Regions from separate parts of the Homo sapiens genome. Here regions 1 and 3 are each linked to region 2. Evidence: fine-mapped expression QTL. A gene starts in region 2. Each other region holds a variant in brackets. All regions are shown on one strand. Distances are from middle to middle.

Region 1 (6,532 bases), 46 kb after region 2:
ACCTATCTAGCTCCTCAAGAGTGGCCAGGGTCCCCTACTGACCCTCCATTACCCTGCATGACCTGGTCCCTGCTACCCTCTCCAGTCTTGTTGCACAACCACAGTGCACTTCAAATCCAGACACAGCCCCACCAACCCCTGGACTGCTCTTTCACATGTCTGTAGCTTTACACGAGCCGTTCCCTCTGCCTGAGACATTTTCCTCATCTTGCCTACTAGGCAAACCCCTATTCATTCCTCAAAAACCCATTTCTTGGCTAGGCATGCGGCCTCACTCCTGTAATCCCAGCACTTTGAGAGGTCAGAGCAGGAGGATTGCTTGGGGCCAGGAGTTCAAGACCAGCCTGGGCAATGTAGTGAGATCCTATCTCTACAAAAAAGTTAGCCAGGTGTGGTGGCATGTGCCTGTAGTCCCAGCTACTGGAGAGGCTGGGGCAGGAGGATCCCTTGAGCCCAGGAATTTGATGTACAGTGAGCTCTGATCACACTACTACTCTCAAGCTTGATCAAGCTTGATCTCAAGCGAGATCCTGTCTCTTAAAAAAACAAACAGCGGCCAGGTGCGGTGGCTCACATCTGTAATCCCAGCACTTTGGGAGGCTGAGACGGGCGGATCACAAGGTCAGGAGATGGAGACCATCCTGGCTAACACGGTGAAACCCCGTCTCTACTAAAAATACAAAAATTTAGCCAGGTGAGGTGGGGGGCACCTGTAGTCCCAGCTGCTCGGGAGGCTGAGGCAGGAGAATGGCGTGAACCCAGGGGGCGGAGCCTGCAGTGCGCGCCACTGCACTCCAGCCTGGGTGACAGCGAGACTCCGTCTCAAAAAAAAAAAAAAAACCACAAACAAAAAAACATTTCTTCTGGGATGCTTTCCCTGGCCTCCTGAACCTCCTACGATGACCCCTCCACTTGAGTGCTTATCATCAGACCATCCTTTGACGATTTTCACATTTCTCATGATTGTTCATGTGAGCTCATCAAGGGGAGGCAGTTTGTCTCATTATTTTGTGAATCCCTGGTGCTTAGCAAATAGCTGGCACTCAATGTTTGCTGAATGAAAGAACAACATGACCGGGCGCAGTGGCTCACGCCTGTAATCCCAGCACTTTGGGAGGCTGAGGCAGGCGGATCACCTGAGGTCGGGAGGTCGAGACCAGCCTGACCAACATGGAGAAATCCTGTCTCTACTAAAAATACAAAACTAGGCCGGGCATGGTGGCTCACGCCTGTAATCCCAGCACTTTGGGAGGCCGAGGCGGGCGGATCATGAGGTCAGGAGATCGAGACCATCCTGGCTAACACGGTGAAACCTCATCTCTACTAAAATACAAAAAATTAGCCAGGCGTGGTGGCAGACACCTGCAGTCCCAGCTACTCGGGAGCTGAGGCAGGAGAATGGCATGAACCCGAGAGGTGGAGCTTGCAGTGAGCCAAGATCACGCCACTGCACTCCAGCCTGGGCGACAGAGTGAGACTCCATCTCAAAAATAAATAAATAAATAAAAATACAAAACTAGCCAGTTGTGGTGGCACCTGCCTATAAGCCCAGCTACTCCAGAGGCTGAGGCAGGAGAATTACTTGAACCAAGGAGGCGTAGGTTGCGGTGAGCCGAGATCGCACCATTGCACTCCAGCCTGGGCAACAAGAGGGAAACTCCGTCTCAAAAAAAAAAAAAAAGAAAAAGAAAGAACAACATGACACCATTCTGATAACACTTCATATCTTTCCAGGCCCAACTCAAAAGACCACTTTTTTCCTGAAAGTCCCCATTTAACAACTGATGAACCACACCCCCACTCTCAAAATCCCCTCTCCAGGCCCTCCCCCAACTGCCCATGGTTGCTAGTTCCAAATAAATCCAATATAACCCCTTACCCTGGCATTCAAGGCCCACATGACCTGCTCCTACTACCCTTATTCCCCACCTAACCCCAATGTCACACCCTGTGCCACCTTCCTTTCCCTGCACTGAAATCCTTTAAGACCACTACAAGCTGCCACCTCTGGGGCCTCCTTACTGCTCCCCCAATCCCACTTTCCCCTGACCTATAATGGGTTACACAGTTTAACCTTGATTCATTCATTTAACAAACACTTACTGAGCCCTTCTTTGCCTCAGACCCTGTGCTGGATGGGACAAAGAACAGAGTGAAAGATTTGATCCCTGCCCTCAGGAATGTCATGATCTGGCAAAAGATATAGAAACAAAAACAAATCATAGCAAATGCTCACACAGCACCTGCTAGACGCTTCCCAGCAACCCTGAGAGGCAGACACTATCATTATTCCCATTTTCCAGGTAAGGAAACTGAAGTACAGAGAAGTTAAGTGCCTTGCCCACCCACCTAGCCAGGAAGTAGCAGATGGCAGAGGCATGCTCTGAACTCAAGTCTGTTTTTTTGTGTGTTTTGTTTGTTTGTTTGTTTGAGACAGAGTCTTGCTCTGTCACCCAGGCTGGAGTGCAATGGCTCAATCTCGGCTCACTGCAACCTCCGCCTCCTGGGTTCAAGCAATTCTCCTGCCTCAGCCTCCCGAGTACCTAGGATTACAGGTGCCCGCCACCACGCCCAGCTAATTTTTGTATTTTTAGTAGACAGGGTTTCACCACATTGGCCAGGCTGGTCTCGAACTCCTGACCTCAGGTGATCCACCTACCTTGGCCTCCCAAAGTGTTGGGATTACAGGCGTGAGCCACGGCACCCAGCCTTGTTTTGTTTTTAAGATAGCGTCTTGCTCTGTCCCCCAGGTTGGAGCACAGTGGTATAATCACAGCTCACTGCAGCCTTGACCTCATGGACTCAAGCAATCCTCCTATCAGCCTCCCAAGTGGCTGGGGCTACAGGTACATGTTACCATGCTCAGCTGATTTTTTAAATTTATTTTTACTTTATTATAGAGTCAGGGTCTCACTTTGTTGCCCAGGCTGGTCTCGAACTCCTGGCCTCAAGCGACCCTCCCACTCGGCCTCCCA[A/C]AGTGCTGGGATTACAAATGTGAGCCACTGTGCTCTTAACCACTACCCTAAAATGCACTTTGCAACACAAGGTGGCAAGGGCTATTTATCGTTTCCTAATTTTATACTGTTTTACCTGGCTTCAATTACATAATTCAGGCTTACCGTCATTCATTGTGTTATTCATTAACTCAAATAGTTATTGAAAAACCTGCCAGACAATCCCTCCCTGCCTGCCAAATAAATTCCCTCCAAGCTTACTTATTGGACTCAGTGTTCAGGTTCATCAGATATTTATTGTGACTACCTCTGCACCAGTCACCAGACAAGGAAAAGAGATTCAGGCAGGATAAAGCATTCATGTTCTCTGCCCCCAGTGGCACTGTGATCACCCCCAAAACCAATCAAATAAGTCACACACAGTCCAAGTAAATGCAGAGTGCTTGCTATGCAAGGGCAGCATCAAGACGACCCCACCCCCACAAGCCCACATCTCCAGAGCCTGATTTGCATTCCTAAGCTCCTCCTGCATTAGGATTCTGGCATCAGCCCTGCTCCCCAGTCTTTCCTAGTCCAGTGGGGAAGCAGGAGTCGTTACACTGCTGCACAGGGGCTGCTACTTAGGACAACAGGCATGTGCAGGACTCTTCTATTCCCCAGCGAGCCTGGCACAGGGCAGATTTAGGAAGCAGACATTGCTGCTGCACTAATTGACGGGGCCACTTCCATCCAGAGCACAAGACCTCCCTTGGCCAGCCTTGCTGGTTGGGGAGCCAGTTCTGGATTTCTCCATCTCCCCAAGAGATGGTTTCAACCTCAACAATCTGGCCCCCACTCTTGTCCACAACTTTGTCTTCCCAACTGAGAACCTTGGGGGGACCAGAAAAGACCTCTGAAAGCATCTTGGGCAACTCTCTTGTTTTACACTTAGGAAAGCAGAGCCCAGAAACTGGAAGGCCTTCCCCAGAGTCCTCCCACCCAGCAAGGTTTCTATTCCACTACTGCGGCAAAGACCAGCGAATGATGGCGATGGCTGTGCCCTGTGGACACCTAGCTCCTGGGTGCCTGTGATCTGATAAGTCCAGTCCTGTGCTCCATATCCCACTCTTGGAACTTCCCAAGATATAACAGCACATTAAAGACTCTCAGAAGGGCTGGACACGATGGCTCATGCCTGTAATCCCAGCACTTTGGGAGGCCGAGGCAGGTGGATCACTTGCAATCAGGAGTTCGAAACCAGCTTGGGCAACATGGTAAAACCCTGTCTCTATGAAAAAATACAAAAATTCGCCAGGTGTGGTGGTGTGCACCTGTAGTCCCAGCTACTTGGGAAGCTGAGGCAGGAAGATCCCTTGAGCCTCAGAGGCAGAGGTTGCCGGGAGCCAAGATTGTGCCACTGCACTCCAGCCTGGGTGACAGAGTGAGACCCTTTCTCAAAAAAAAAAAAAAAAAAAAAGCTCTAAGAAGTCCTGCAGCAAAGAAGTTGGCTTAGCTTTGTTGAATCAACATTTGCCAAGCTTATGTGACCACGGATTCCTTCCGTAGTAATAATTATATTATAAAGCCACTTGAGGCCGGGCGCAGTGGCTCACGCCTGTAATCCCAGCACTTTGGGAGGCCGAGGTGGGTGGATCACGAGGTCAAGAGATCGAGACCATTCTGGCCAACATGGTGAAACCCCGTCTCTACTAAAAATACAAAAATTAGCTGGGCGTGGTGGCACGTGCCTGTAGTCCCAGCTACTCGGGAAGCTAAGGCAGGAGAAGGCCTTGAACCCGGGAGGCGGAGGTTGCAGTGAGCCAAGATCGCACTACTGCACTCAAGCCTGGGCAACAGAGTGAGACTCCATCTCAAGAAGAAAAAAAAAAGCCAGTTTAAATGTAGAAAGTGTTTACTATATGCCCACTCTTTACAGTCCTGTTGCAATTAACTCTCATAACTTGCCTGGGAGGTAAGTACTATTCTGCCCATTTTGTTGTTGCGGATAATGAAATTCAGAGAAGTCAAAAGCTCCCAGCTGGGCGCAGTGGCTCACACCTGTAATCCCAGCTCACTGGGAGGCCGAGGTGGGCGGATCACCTGAGGTCAGGAGTTCGAGACCAGCCTGGCCAATATTGGGAAACCCCATGTCTACTAAAAATACAAAAATTAGCCGGGCATGGTGGTGCATGCTTGTAATCCCAGCTACTCAGGAGGCTGAGGCAGGAGAATCGCTTGAGCTCGGGGAGCTGAGATTGCAGTGAGCCGAGATCGTGCCACTGTACTCCAGTCTGGGTGACAAAGTGAGACTCTCTAAAAAAAAAAAAAAAGAAAAAAGAAAGGAAAAAAAAAAGCTCCTTACCCAAGGTTGGAGGATGGGGGAGGGAGGTGGAGCCAGGACTGGGCTGTAGATGCTTGCAGACACTACTGCTGCCCTGCTCCAGGCACACTTGTCTGCATCCTACAGAACAACTTTGCAAAATCCTGGTCTAAAGCAGGCAACCAGGCTCTTTCTTATAAATTACTTTCTTAGGCTTCTAGCAATTCAGTCTCCCTCAGTTGCTGGCTACCTGCTTGCACCTGATCTTCTCCAGGGAGGCCCTGGCTCAAGCCACCTCCTTAGGTGAGTGACAGCGCTCGCTTATACCTCCCTCCCCCAGATATAATGGGCCCTATGGACAAAACCTGAGGCACCATGCTAGGATGACAGAGACCCCGCTGCCCTATTTTCTTTAGACCTCAGCTAGAGGCCTCACTCCACCTAAGTAGGTCTGTTTTCAGAATTAGTTTCCACCTCCTGACTCCATGGAAAGGGACTCTGATCCAGGGGAAAGGAAAAAGCAGGGGCAGGGGTCAAGCCTGAGCCAGCAGGATGAGGATGGATATCCGGAGGGCACCATCAGGGCATCCTCTGAGTGGTCAGCCTCTGAGTCGTGTGCCCACCAGGCTGCTGGGCCCTGTCTATTCAGGCAGCTCAGCCCAGCCCACCTCCATGGGCCCCTCCAAGTCTGGCAAATTGCACTGGGTACCTGGGGGTTTCTCTCAAGCCTGGGGGCTGGTGACCTCTACTATGGGACTGGGCAAATTCACCAGATGCTGAGCACTTCCACAGATGAGGGGCACTAGGGGCGGGGCTTCCAGGGACTGGGGGTGTCTTGTGTGATGTCACCAGAGGGTGGGGCTAAAGACAACCTCCCACACCTCTCCTCCCCAACTTCACCACTCCCATAGTGGTGAAATCCATGCTAAACTGTGTGCCTTCCTAGCCAGGCCTCTGCTGCAGCAAGCAGCTCACCATTCACCTCTGCATGAGACTTACGGGGAAACCGAGGGCCAGCTGAAAAGTTTGACTTACCTAAGATCACACAGCAGGGCAAAGGCAAAGCCAGGTGACTAGGGCCTGGTTGATGGTGTCAGGCAAACTTCAGTGGTTCCTGTCCACTACTCAGTGGGAATCAGAATGGAAGAAGGTTAGGAATAAAGGAAAAAGCAGACGGTATAAAAGTGCACAGAGCAGATGGACTTCAGATTCAGACAAACCAGGTTTGACTCCTGATTGCATAACATGCTAGCTATGTGACCTTAGACAAGTGACTTAC
Region 2 (6,532 bases):
GACCAGATGGGGCATGAGCCAGCCAGCTCAGCCAGGCTCCCTGTGTCCTGGGAGGAAGTGTCCCCATCCCCCATGCCCCTTATGGGGAGGGAGGGCGTCTGATGCTCTCTCTCTGCCTCCCCCCCCATCCTGTCAGGCACAGGTGACGGGGGCAGCCCATGCGAGCCCTTCTCCTGCTGCTCTGGGAGGGCCAGTTCCACATTGAGCCAGCCTGGTCCCATGGAAAATGATGGCCTGGGCTTTCTGAGGCCTTATCTGATGCCTCTGCAGTTCATGTCCCCCACCAGGCCTCGAGGCTCAGGGTGGGAGAGGGCCCCGGGCTGCCCTGTCACTCCTCTAACACTTCCCTCCCCTGTCCCCAACATGCCCTGTAATAAAATTAGAGAAGACTAACTAGAGTGGTTCTAAGTGCTTTTCCTTTGAGTGGCATGTTGCTCAGCTCCGTCCTTCCATGGGGTGGCTCCCTCTTGGGGCAGAGTTGAGCTGGAATGCTTTCAGGTACTATCTTACCTATCGAAGGCTTGAGTGACTTGCCCAAAATAAGTTTTACGATAGAACAAGTGGTAGGACTTACTGTTTTGAGAATCTGGTGCTCTCTGTTGAGAGAGATCTGGGAGTTAAAATCATTGTCTTAAAAGCAGAGCCTGAGACAGGCATGAAGTGTTTTTTTGTTTGTTTGTTTTGTTTGTTTGGTGGGGCTGGGGGGGAGTGTACTTCCAGAAAAACCAGTAAAAGAAGGAAGGAAGCAGAAGAGGGAAAGGAAAAATGCTGAGCAGGAACAGTCTCAGCCCAGCCTTGGCCTGACCCACAGTGGAAGAGCTGTGGGGCATAAACCACACTGCAGAGCTGAACTGGCCTTTTGGACCTTTTATCAGTCATTGGCTTGGGAGGTGAAGGAAATTCCCAGGTAGGGAGCTCCGTTCTTCCTGCAAGGGGATCTGAGTGGGACACCAAATCAGCATCTACACCCAGGACAGACAGCCAGCGTGGACTTGCATGATCCGCCATCGCACAGGAGGGAAAGGTAATGATTAAAACACAATGTGCCATCCTGGGAAGAGGGCCAGACCTGGAAGTCAATCTTCAGCGTTTGAGATATGGTGGAGATCAGGGTGGACGACCTCTGAGGTCTCTAGCCAGGACCAGTCACATAATTTGCACAGCCCCGTGCAAAATGAAAACACAAGAACCCCTATTAGAAAATCATTTCAAGACGGCAACAGCAAAGTACTAAACCAAGTACAGGATTCTGAGCATGCGGCCCGTTGTGACTGCATGGGCTGTTCACCCATGAAACCAGCTCTGTCTCTGGCAGAGGGGACTGCAGGCTTTGGAACCAAGGAACTCCAGCCTGGGAGCCAGGCACAGCCCGAGGCTGTGCTGAAGGCAGAGAAGGAAATGTGACCCAGGAACTGCATGCCACAGACCAAGACAGTGAGGGCTGGAGCACAAAGAGGGAGTGGGTTAGTGAGCCTGGAAGGAATGTGGCTCTTCCCACAGAGCCTCTGGAGTCTTGTACATCAAGTACCCATCTAATAAGCAAACTCATTGAATATACCGTGTGTGTGTGTGTGTGTGTGTGTGTGTGTGTGTGTGTGTGTGAGAGAGAGAGAGAGAGGCTAAAATAGAAGAAAGCTGCAAAGTGCTGGAGGGCAGGAGTCAAGAGGAGAAAGAGGCCCATTCTGCGCATTCTTGCTGGAGAGAGGCTTTGCAAAGGGACCTGCCTGGGAACCAAGAACTGGGAAGGGGGCCAGGGTGAGGATTCTGAAGTTTGCCCTAGGGGTAGGAGCATATTTTAGGGGTCGAGCGACACACCCCTGGGCTTCCAGAAGTCGGATGGGGCTAAACGTGGAGAGCAACAAGCAGGGAGACGCGACGAATACCAGGCCGAGGGATCTCCAAACGCAGCCAACTCCTCCCGGGGACACAGACCCCGCGGGGGCACGGTCTCGATGGAGGGGAGTGTGCTCCGCGGTATCGGAGCCTACAGCCGCCAGCGCCTCGCCCACTCGGGGGCCGCGCTCCCCTCGCCACCGAGCTGGACCCGCCTCCTGAGGGTGCGCGGAGGTGCGCCTCGGTGCGCAGCTGCGGAGGATCGCTTCCGGGGGGCGGGTCAGCGGAAGTGAGGGCGGTTGAGGCTGGGCGGCCCAAGGTGGAAGGAGGGGCCGTGAGGTGAGAGAGTCCGGGAGCCCGAGCTTGAGGTGAGAAAGGTTCTAGGGAGGCGCGGAGGCGGGAGCGCGACCTTCCAGCCCGTTAGTAGACTGGGTCTACGTGCCGGGCGCTGTGCGGAGCCCGCAGCTCCTGTTCCCGCGCGAGTTCTCGCGGGAGCCGCAGCTGTCCGTCTCACTTGGCCCGGGGGAAACTGAGTCCCCGAAGGGTAGTTGCTCGTCGGAGTTCCCCAGCAAACAGTGACCAAGCCAGACCTCAGGCTTCTAGTTTCGGCTTCGCTGCTTGACGGGCCGGGCTGCCCCGCCGCGCATTCTGAGACCTGGCCGCGGCTCGGAGGCTTCCGCGCACTCGGGTCCGGGTCCTGTGGGTCCAAGGGCCGCTGGGCAGGCGGCGAGCACTTGGCCGACCTTGGCCCAGGTCGGGTCGTCTGCCGCGGGGGAGGGGCGACTCGCCCTGGCGGGTCCCCGCGGGGAGAGGGTCCGCGCGGGTCTCCGGCCACTGCTGCGCGCGGCAAAGTTTCACTGAGCGCGGCGGCCTCCGTGGGGGCCCCCGGGACCAGGGGTGCTGAGCAGGGCCCTGCGCTGGAGGAGCTCCCGTTCTCCTGAGGGGACGCCTGTCAGCAGACAGCAACTGCAGCCTCCGGAGGGCTGCGGGGCGCAGAGGTGACAAGACCCACCGGTGCTGCCGGCGAACCGGGGGAAGATCTTCTAGCCAGTGACACTTGGGGGCGGGGGTGACAGCTGAGTTGGTGTTCCCCTTCATTCGTTTAGTTCAGCGCGTTGAAGCGCTCACTGTGTCCTAGGCAGACACCGTGCTGTGCGCGGGGATCACAGTTATCTAGTTCCTCTCGCGAGGACTCCGAGGGACAGGCAGGGTGCTGCGGAGCGCACAGGAAAGGACCTGACCCTGTCGCAGGGAAGGAAGGTGATGCTTAAGCTGAGCTCTGAGGAATGATGAAGAATGAGCTCGGCGAAGGGGGTGCTGGTGTTTGATGCAGGGCTCAGAGGTGGGCCCAGTGTTGGGGGTTGAGGGCCAGTGTGGCTGGAGGGCAAGGGGGAGAGCAGGAGGGCTGGCTGCGAAGCGTGCAGGCCTTGGTGCTCAGTGAATGTGGTCTAGAGACGGCAGAGAAAGATGGGTTTGGGACTGATTGTGGATTTTATCCTGTGTTGGCTCTAGTAAGCCAGTTTTAAACGGATGAGCGATGTGATTAACTGTGTTTGGGAAGGATTCCTCTGGCTGTGTGTGAGGGTTAGGCCCGGCTGGGTCTTTGGAGGTAAGGTCGGAGAGGAAGTGGCAGTAAGCACCGTTAGTGCAATTTGTGGCCGACACGGACATTCAGCACAGAGCCTGGCACACAGAGGGACTCTGATAATAAAGGCTTGAACTGAGCCGAGAAGATGGAGCCCACGCAGGAGGTGGCAGGACCTGGACCAGGCTTTGGGTGCTTTGCACTGGCATGACCACTGAGTGACCTTAGACAAGTGCCTTCCCCTGTCCAACTTCCTTTCCCCATGTGTATCGTGAAGTGAATGACACCTCGTCTCCCAAGGGTAGAAGAGGGGACCCTCCACAGGAGGTCTCCAGAAAGAGCTGCTTTGTCAGTCTAGTCTATCTCCCATTCAGAGCCTGTCCAGGGCTCCCCAGTGACCCGGACCTCATGACTTGCCCCCTACTTTTGTAGCTTTATCATGCTCTGCTCCTCTTTCCATGTCCTTCACCTTCTTGTGCTGGACCTGTGCTCTTGCTGTTTTGTCTTCATTTCCTACTCCCTCGCAACTTACTACAGGGCACTAGGGCCAGAGCTCTGACCTCATCTGGCCACCTGCCTAATGCTACTCAGCCTTTGCTAGAAGTATGTATTCATGTCCTATCACTCTGCTGGACAGCGAGTTCCTTGAGAGCATGACTGTGTCTTACTCCTTCCATAGCCCCTACGGTGCCCAGCACAAGGCCTGGCACAAGTGGGTACTGTTGGTGTTTGATGAACAAGTGAATGAACGAGCACACTGATTGCATCTGCTCACCATGCAAGGACTGCTGTGAAGAGCAGTCAGATGTCACCTCACCCATCTGTGTCATGTTTTAACAGTTCATTAAGCACTCAACCCCATTTCACTCATTGACCCTTAAGGTAGCCTCCAGTGGCAGCTTTTCCTGTCTCCTTTTTCCAGATGGAAAAACCAACATTCAGAAAAGTTAAATAACTTGCCTGTAGCTACAAAGCCAGAAGGTGGCTGAGCCAGGATAAACTTTTTTGGCTCTTTTTCTCTGTAGCTCATGAGACTGAGATTGGCATGAGCTGGTGTTCGTTCTCCTATTTTCTCTGATCTCTCCCTTTGCAAGGGCCCAGCAGTGCTTTTACATCTCATCTTCAAGAATGAATCCTGGGCTTGGATAGTACTTATAATTTGGCTAGATGAGCTTTGTAGCTACCAAGGATTCTATTTGCATCTTTAGAAGTTTTGCCTCAAGAAACCTGAGAGCCCAGGAAGGCTCTTGGGTTGGCCAAGCTCACTAGGCAAATCTTTTTTTTTTTTTTTTTTTTTTGAGACGGAGTCTCGCTCTGTCACCCAGGTTGGAGTGCAGTGGCGTGATCTCGGCTCACTGCAAGCTCTGCCTCCTGGGTTCACGCCATTCTCCTGCCTCAGCCTCCCAAGTAGCTGGTACTACAGGTGCCCGCCACCACACCTGGCTAATTTTTTGTATTTTTAGTAGAGACAGGGCTTCACTGTGTTAGCCAGGATGGTCTCGCTCTCCTGACCTCGTGATCCGCCCACCTCGGCCTCCCAAAGTGCTGGGATTACAGATGTGAGCCACTGCGCCTGGCCGCAGATCTTTAACAGAACCTTTAAGAGTCTGGACTTAGAGCTAAGTGTTGGGTGAGGGCAGCCTCTTGGGCTGGTTTTCTCCCCTGTGAAGTCATGGCTCTGCAGGGCCTGGTTTTTTGGGGCTTGTGTGGTGACCATTAAATCCCCACTGTGGGGGGTTGTTTCACAAGAGGGAAATCTGGTGCTCCTCCAGATGGCCTGATATGAAGGAGTCACGCCTCCCGCCTCCCGGAGCTGCCCAGTGGCTGCCTTGTCCTTCAAGTGCAGGAGCTGGTTCAAATGTCAGGAATGGAAGCCACTGTGGTAAGGGGCATTCCCAGGGCAGGGGTATGGTGGGGAAGGTTGGGTGCTGGGCCTGCTGAAGTACTGTAAAAGGTTCTGAGACTCTCCAGTTGAGCACTCCTTTCTCCAGAGGCCTGGAATTGGAGCAAGGCCACCGTTTCACTCCCTCCCCCTAAGAAGAACCAACTATGATCCTGGGGCACTTCAGGAGTCAGTGTATGTCTGCCTTTCTGTACAGAGGACGGGAAGGAAAGCCTGGATAATCTCTACACTCAGCTACTTCCTCTCCCCTTCCCTGACCCTCCCAACATTGACTGCCTTAGCAGCAGCAGGTATTCCCTTGGGTGGCTGGCCAGGGTGTAGGCTGGCAACTGGGGAACCTGCCCTCACTATAATTGAGAGTTGACTTGCCCCTAGAGAGTGCCCTGTCCCTAGGTTTGTGGAATTCAGTCTCCACAAACCTAGAGAGGAGAGGACAAGGACAGTAGTTGGATTCATTCTCTGGGGTTGTAGCTGTCTCCGTCTCTTTGCTCCAGACCATCCCAATCTGGCAAAACAAGCCACATGGGGCTGCTCGAAGTGTAGTAAGAAGAATTGGGACCAACCTACCCTTGAAGCCGTGTGCCCGGGCGTCCTTTGAGGTGAGTATGTTGGAAGGGCAGGAGAGTAGAGGCTCAGACAGTGCTGCTTCTGTGCCCCAAACCCCTTGGTACTGCCCAAGTAGGTTGTTTCCTGGTCACTTTTCATTCTGTTATGAAATATTTGTTAAATGCTTATAAGATATCCTGGTCACTGTGTCCTCCTGAGTGCATACAAACCTGTGACCACAAGGAACCTGACAGGTCCCCCACATGGGACACTGACTATTGTGATTTTTGAGTTGAACTCTGCTTTTCTTCACCAGCCCTAAGAATTGACCATGTAGCCAGTATTTTTATTTTATTATTTTTTGAGATGAGGTCTCCCTATGTTGCCCAGGCTAGGTCTTAAACTCCTGGGCTCAAGCAGTCCTCCTGCCTCAGCCTCCTATGTAGCTGGGATTACAGGCACAAGCCACCATGCCCAGCTCCACTATTTTTAGTGTTTCTCTGAGGCCATAATTCCTCAGCCTTCTCTTTTTGGCCAATCTGGGCATCCTTTACTGGGGTGCTTTGGTCTTACCTCTGTGTCTAGGGATCCTTTAGCACCCACTCAGCAGCAGAGATTCCTACCTGGCCCAGGTCTCTTGAGACCCCTTCTGTGGTAGAAAGCTA
Region 3 (6,532 bases), 97 kb after region 2:
CGTGACTTCCCCTTTTGGGGCCTGTGTTCCATCATCTGTGAAATGGGAAGAACACCCCTACCTCATAGAGCTGCCAGGACTAAATAAAATAATATATGTAAAGTCCCTAGCATTGTGTCTATACACAATAAACCCTCAGTAAGTGACAGCTAAGGTATTAGCTATCAAGGACAGCTCTGATCATGCCATTTTCTGCTTGAAAACATTCGACAAATTCAACTTTGGGACACATGATATGAGAAAAGCAAAAATTTCTGAAACCTAAAAAAAAAAAAAAAAAGACTCCCTTTCTTGGCTTAGAGGCCAAGGATTCCTGGCACAGCAGCTATAACCCTCCGTGAAGTCATTGCAGGTCTTTATCTCCATGAGGACCTCCAGGTCAGTCTTCCTCAAGGACCTCCCCCTCCTTTTCCCTGAGATTCTTTAATTCTTGATGCATGTGAAAATCTGTCTTCTTGGGCCGGTGGCAGTGGCTCACGCCTGTAATCTCAGCACTTTGGGAGGCCGAGGCGGGCGGATCACGAGGTCAGGAGATCGAGACCATCCTGGCTAACACGGTGAAACCCCATCTCTACTAAAAATACAAAAAATTAGCCAGGTGTGGGGGCGGGCGCCCATAGTCCCAGCTACTCAGGAGGCTGAGGCAGGAGAATGGCATGAACCCGGGAGGCAGAGCTTGCAGTGAGCCGAGATCACGCCACTGCACTCCAGCCTGGGTGACAGAGCAAGACTCTGTCTAAAAAAAAAAAAAGAAAATCTGTCTTCTCGGATGGATCGTTATAGAGAAGCACAACTAAGATGAACGGAAGAGCTCTGTGATCACTGGACTTAGCCAACAATAGAATGGACTGGGACCTATTCATGAATGAGATTCTTGTTATGGGACATGTGCCGACAAAGTCAAACATCAGAAATGTTGAATCGGGATTCTTGCATTAGAAGAGAGGTGGACTAAATGACCTCTCTTCCTGCTTTAAGGTCCTTTTTTAATGAGATGGGGAAAGGCTCATTATATTGCGCTAAATAGAACAAACAAAGCCTACCCAATTGCACAATATGAGTTCGACTAGGAACAAAATACATTGAAGAAAATGCACCAAAATAATAGTTCTGGAAAGAAAATAACAATTGAGTTTGCTTTCCTTCTTTATACTATTCTGGATTTTCCAAACTTCTTAAAATGAACTTGTATTACTTGTATTAATGACAAAAATTATATATATATTTTTTCTTTCTGAGGCAGAGTTTTGCTCTTGTTGCCCAAGCTAGAGTGCAATGGCATGATCTCGGCTCACTGCAACTTCTGCCTCCCAGGTTCAAGCCATTCTCCTGCCTCAGCCTCCGAAGTAGCTGGGATCACAGGTGCACGCCATTACGCCCAGCTAATTTTTTGTATTTTTAGTAGAAACGGGGTCTCACCATGTTGAACAGGCTGGTCTCAAACTCCTGACCTCAGGTGATCTGCTGGCCTCGGCCTCCCAAAGTGCTGGGATTACAGGCGTGAGCCGCTGTGCCTTGCCCCAACAATTATATTTAAAAAATAGAAGAGACTTTTGTCCTCCTTGCCCATCTTATGTCCTGTGTCTCTGAAACCTCTATATTCACTCTCACTCCTTCCACTCCCCCACCAAGTTTCAGCTTTATTGGACTGTTGGCAGCTCTCTGAAAGGTTACATGCCTATATGTCCCATTGTTTTGCTGACACCAACTGCCTTAGTTCAGGCTGTTGTAACAGAACAACATTGACTGGGTGGCTTAACCAACAAACATTTATAACTCACAGTCCTGGAGGCTGGGAAGTCCAAGTTCAAGGTGCCAGCAGATCTGATGGCTGGTGAGGGCTCTTTTCCTGGTTTGCAGAAAGACATCTTCTTGTTGAGATGGCTGAGAGCACAAAGAGATTCCGTGTCTCCTCTTTTTATACGGGCACTAATCCCATTCATGAGGGCTCTAGCCTCATGACCTAATTACCTCCCAAAGGCTCTACCTCCAAATACCATTACAGTGGGCCATAGGCTTCAACATATGAATGTGGGAGAGAACACAACATTCAGTCTACAGTACCAGCCCTCATAAGGCCTTGAGTCCCTTGGCTTCTGTCTATATTGAAATTCTCTCCACCTTCAAGGTCTTGACTAACCTCTCTCTCCCTCACCACTATGCTGCTGTTGCAGCTATCCATATACATGTCTGTCCCTCTCACTAGTGAGTAAACTCCTTCAGGGCAGGATCCTATGTGATTCTGTCTTGCCATCCCTGAAGTGCCACAGACACTCTGTGAGTGTTGAATCATTTGGCCAGTGTCTTTTTGGCCACCAAACAACACTTAGGGCTTAAGGTCAGATGGCATATCTGAGTGTATAATCTGCAGTCTAGTCCCTTGCAAATTCAAAAAGACTATTCCAGTGACATCTCTTTCTTTCTTTTTTTTTTTTTTTTGAGATGGAGTCTCGCTTTGTCACCCAAGCTGGAGTGCAGTGGCACCATCTCAGCTCACTGCAAACTCTGCCTCCTGGGTTCAAGTGATTTTCCTGCCTCAGCCTCCTGAGTAGCTGGGATTACAGTTGCGCACCACCACACCTGGCTAATTTTTGTATTTTTAGTAGAGACGGAGTTTCAGCATGTTGGTCAGGCTGGTCTCAAACTCCTGACCTCGTGATCCGCCTGCCTCGGCCTCCCAAAGTGCTGAGATTACAGGTGTGAGCCACCGCGCCTGGTCTCTTTTTTTTTTTTTTAAATTATTTTATTTGTTTTTAAACTTCAATTGAAATCAACCATTTTCGATTTCCAGAGAGTTGCAAAGATGGTACACGGAGTTCCCGTATGCCCTTCAGCCAGCTTCATTTGGTGTTAACATCTTACATAATCATGGTACATTTATCCAAACTAACAGATTAACATTGGTACAATACTATTAACTGAATGGCTGAATTTAATCGGATTCTCCATTTTTCCACTGGGGTCCCTTTTTGTGTTACAGGATCTAATCCAGGATACCACCTTGCACGTTGCATCTTGCCTCCTTAGCCAGTGACATTTATTTTAATGAGGAGGCCAGGGCTCGGCTCTTGTCCTCTGCTGGGCTTCTGGTGCTTCCTATGGGAAGATTGACGCTTCCTCCCACATGAAGCTAAAATGATTTTCATTTTAGATCTACTCTGTTTCTTGAATGGGCTCTTGTGGGCCTAGAAACAAGGGGGAATTACTAGTTTAATTCACTAAATTTCTGGGCCATTCCGTAGCCCATTTTTCCATGCCTTGGCACGGAGCTTGATCCTAGTCACTTAAAAAGCTTCCAAGCAGTTGGCTTCTATCAGCAATCTTAGCAATTCAGTGAGAACAGAGGTTACAGCTGTCACAGGAAGTGGAAACGAAGGCTGCTGATATCACACCCATTCTGAGACGGATGAAAGTCTACACGTTGTAGAAGTCAAGCTGGGAAGCTGGGGGTGGCTGGGGTGTCAGGTGGCAAAGGGTGGGATGCTGTGCAAGAGAAAATACAGGAGGGGAAGAAAAGCAGATGTGTCATTCATTGGAACTCCATTG[A/ATT]TTTTTTTTTTTTTTTTTTGAGATGGAGTCTCACTCTCTCACCCAGGCTGGAATGCAGTGGTGCGATCTTGGTTCACTGCAACCTCAGCCTCTTGGGTTCAAGCGATTTCCCTGCCTCAGCTATCAGAGTGGCTGGGATTAAAGGCACACGCCACCATAGCCAGCTAATTTTTCTATTTTTATTAGAGACAGGGTTTCACCACGTTGGCTAGGGTGGTCTCAAACTCCTGATCTTAAGTGATTCGCCTGCCTCAGCTTCCCAAACTGCTGGAATTACAGGCGTGAACCACCACCCCAGCCTGGAACCCCTTCGATTGTAGACCTTGGGGGCTTATTGCTCTTAGATACCAAGACCTCTTTCAACTAAGCCCGTGCATGAATGAGAAAGCAGTACTGCCCTGGGGTGGATGCAGGCCCCATCACTCTACTGGATTACCAGGCAGCCTCCCAATTGGTCCTCAGTCTGCCCCTCCCACATAGGCGCTCATAACCCAAATCCCTACGGAGGGGTCAGGAGAAGAGGCGGCACCAGAGGGGACAGAGCAGGCAGCACACTGGAGAGTGCAGGCCCCACCCGGGCAGGAGGACGAGCATGTTCTGCTGATACCTTAAAAAAAAAAAAAAAATTGGCTTGGCGCGGTGGCTCACGCCAGTAATCCCAGCACTTTGGGAGGCCAAGGCGGGAGGATCATGAGGTCAGGAGATCGAGACCATCCTGGCTAACGCGGTGAAACCCCGTCTCTACTAAAAATACAAAAAAAATTAGCCAGGCATGGTGGCCAGGTGCCTGTAGTCCCAGCTACTCGGGAGCCTGAGGCAGGAGAATGGCGTGAACCCGGGAGGTGGAGCTTGCAGTGAGCCGAGGTTGCGCCACTGCCCTCCAGCCTGGGCGACACAGCAAGACTCGGTCTTGAAAAAAAAAAAAAGAAAAAAAAATTTTTCCAGCTGGGCATGGTGGCTCACGCCTGTAATCCCAACACTTTGGGAGGCCAAGATGGGCAGATCACTTGAGCCCAGGAGTTCCAGATCAGCCTGGCCAATATGGCGAAACCCCATCTCTACTAAAAATACTGGCCGTGGTGGCTCACACCTGTAGTCCCAGCAACTCGGGAGGATGAAGCAGGAGAATGCTTGAACCTGGGAGGCTGAGGCTGCAGTGATCCAAGATTGAGCCACTTTACTCTAGCCTGGGCGACAGAGAGAGACTCTGTCTAAAAAAAAAAAAAAAAAAAAAAAAAAAAAAAATCCTACTTTTATTTCAGGAGGTACATGTGCAGATTTCTTAAATGGGTATAATGTGTGATGCTGAGGTTTGGGATACCAATGATCTTGCCACCCAGATGGTAGCATAGATTACCCAACAGTTGGTTTTTCAAGTCTGTTTTCTTCATTACCATAGAACAGTGCCTGACAAATACTAGGTTCTCAATACATAGTTGGTATATGAACCAGCCAAGTTCATTAGGGGCTCAGAGCACAGTGGTTAAGAGTGTGGGCTCTGGAGTCAGGGTCTCTGAGTTCACATCCTGATTCTGCCTCTTACCTTCCGCAGAGTTTTTAGGATGAGTACCAGAAAACTCAGCCCAGGGAAGAATTTGTTGTTTTGATGCTGATTGTCCATTCATTCAACAGAAGGTTACTGATGAACCATGAGGTGTCATGTCTTGTACTAGGCCCTGGGAGCACAGGAAGAAAGAAGGCATGTCCCTGGCCTCAAGAGCTCATAGTAAGTAGACAAGCAGCTCAGAGCACTGATGGGGCGCAGGGGAGCAGAGGCTAACCCAGGCAGCGGAGGGGAAACAAGGAAGGCCTCCTAGAGAAAGGGGTGGCTGAGCTGATGAGGCCTGAAGGAAGCTTGTAGGCAAAGAGGAATGGGGAGAGGGTGCCAGGAAGAGGAAATAGCACAGCCAAATGCCTAGAAGAAGCCAGCCTAGAGCAGTAGCTGAACTGCAAGTAGTTTGCCCTGTCCCTCCAGCAGGTTTCAAGTTGAGGGATGTTAACCCTGGATTTGAGACAGGGGAGGGGATCTGGGGCAGCAGCACCAAGGCCATTCCTTGTGAGGTAGGAGGCAGGACTCGACACTGAATGAGATTTAAGACTGGCTGACGTGCCTACCAGTGCCATGACAGTTTACCCATTCCCTAGCAACAACCTGGAAGTTACCACCTTTTTCTAGAAATTTCTGGATAACCGGCCAGGCGCGGTGACTCACACCTGTAATCCCAGCACTTTGGGAGGCTGAGGCAGGCGGATCACGAGGTCAGGAGTTCGAGACCAGCGTGGCCAGCATGATGAAACCCCATCTCTACTAAAAATACACAAATTAGCCAGGCATGATGGCACACACCTGTAATCCCAGCACCTCTGGAGGTTGAGGCAGGAGAATCACTTAAACCCGGGAGGTGGAGGTTGCAGTGAGCCGAGATTGTACCACTGTACTCCAGCCTGGGCGACAGAGTGAGACTGTGTCTCAAATAAAAACAAATTTCTGAATAACCTGCCCCTTAATTTGCATGTAATTAAAAGTGGATATAAATGAAACTGCAGAACTGCCCCTGAGCTGCTAGACTCCACTCTCTCCTCAGTGGGAACAGTCACGGAGCTGTAACACTGCTGCCTCAATAAAGCTGTTTTCTTCTACCACTAGTTCACCCTTGAATTCTTTCCTGGTGGAAGCCAAGAACTTTCCCCAGTGGAGCGCCAGTGTTGAGGCTCCCCTGCCCTGCAAAATGTGTAAGCCCTTTGGGGTTGGGCGGGGAGCTAGGACTTTAAGGATGACCATCTAGAATCACAACATTGCAGGTTCTTTGAGCTGAGGGACCTGATGGGTCACACAGTCACTCTTGAATCCCTTCCCTGCATGTTGAAAAACTAAAAACCCAAAAAGTACAAAGAAGAAAATAACAATTATTCATATTTCCTATCACCTGGAATTAAACCACTGTTTACATTTTGACATACTTGTCTCCAGTATTTCATGAACATG

Alleles and levels. Alleles are on the strand shown, and positions count from the first base shown. SD is a standard deviation of normalised expression in the study named. Not every link is listed here.
For the expression in lymphoblastoid cells of the gene that starts at base 2,126 in region 2, ATT is the high allele of the variant in region 3 and A is the other (moderate effect, 0.66 SD a copy in CAP).

Evidence for each region. PIP is the estimated chance that this variant, and not a neighbour inherited with it, causes the effect. A credible set is the group of variants that fine-mapping cannot tell apart.
Region 1: its variant is the best candidate, but not a certain one, in a credible set for the expression of MTFR1L in whole blood (TOPMed, PIP 0.50).
Region 3: its variant is the best candidate, but not a certain one, in a credible set for the expression of MTFR1L in lymphoblastoid cells (CAP, PIP 0.53).

Annotation. Positions count from the first base shown.
Region 1 is chr1:25,864,321-25,870,852 of GRCh38, forward strand. It overlaps PAQR7 (progestin and adipoQ receptor family member 7), which reads right to left. Exons shown (of 3, transcript NM_178422.6): 2 at 6,289-6,374. Among named protein-coding and RNA genes, the nearest start is that of PAQR7, 8.1 kb to the right of the region's middle. RefSeq lists an enhancer at 5,396-5,897. The variant A/C (reference allele first, on the strand shown) is at 2,976.
Region 2 is chr1:25,817,829-25,824,360 of GRCh38, forward strand. It overlaps MTFR1L (mitochondrial fission regulator 1 like), which reads left to right and starts at 2,126. Exons shown (of 7, transcript NM_001099625.2): 1 at 2,126-2,201; 2 at 5,191-5,300; 3 at 5,816-5,920. The coding sequence starts at 5,277. SELENON (selenoprotein N) reads left to right here. Exons shown (of 12, transcript NM_206926.2): 12 at 1-393. LOC646471 (a long non-coding RNA gene) reads right to left here and starts at 5,778. Exons shown (of 1, transcript NR_024498.1): 1 at 2,126-5,778. RefSeq lists enhancers at 169-669, 2,312-2,451, 2,832-2,921 and silencers at 1,912-2,101, 2,552-2,721.
Region 3 is chr1:25,914,811-25,921,342 of GRCh38, forward strand. No RefSeq gene overlaps it. Among named protein-coding and RNA genes, the nearest start is that of MIR3917, 12 kb to the left of the region's middle. The variant A/ATT (reference allele first, on the strand shown) is at 3,547.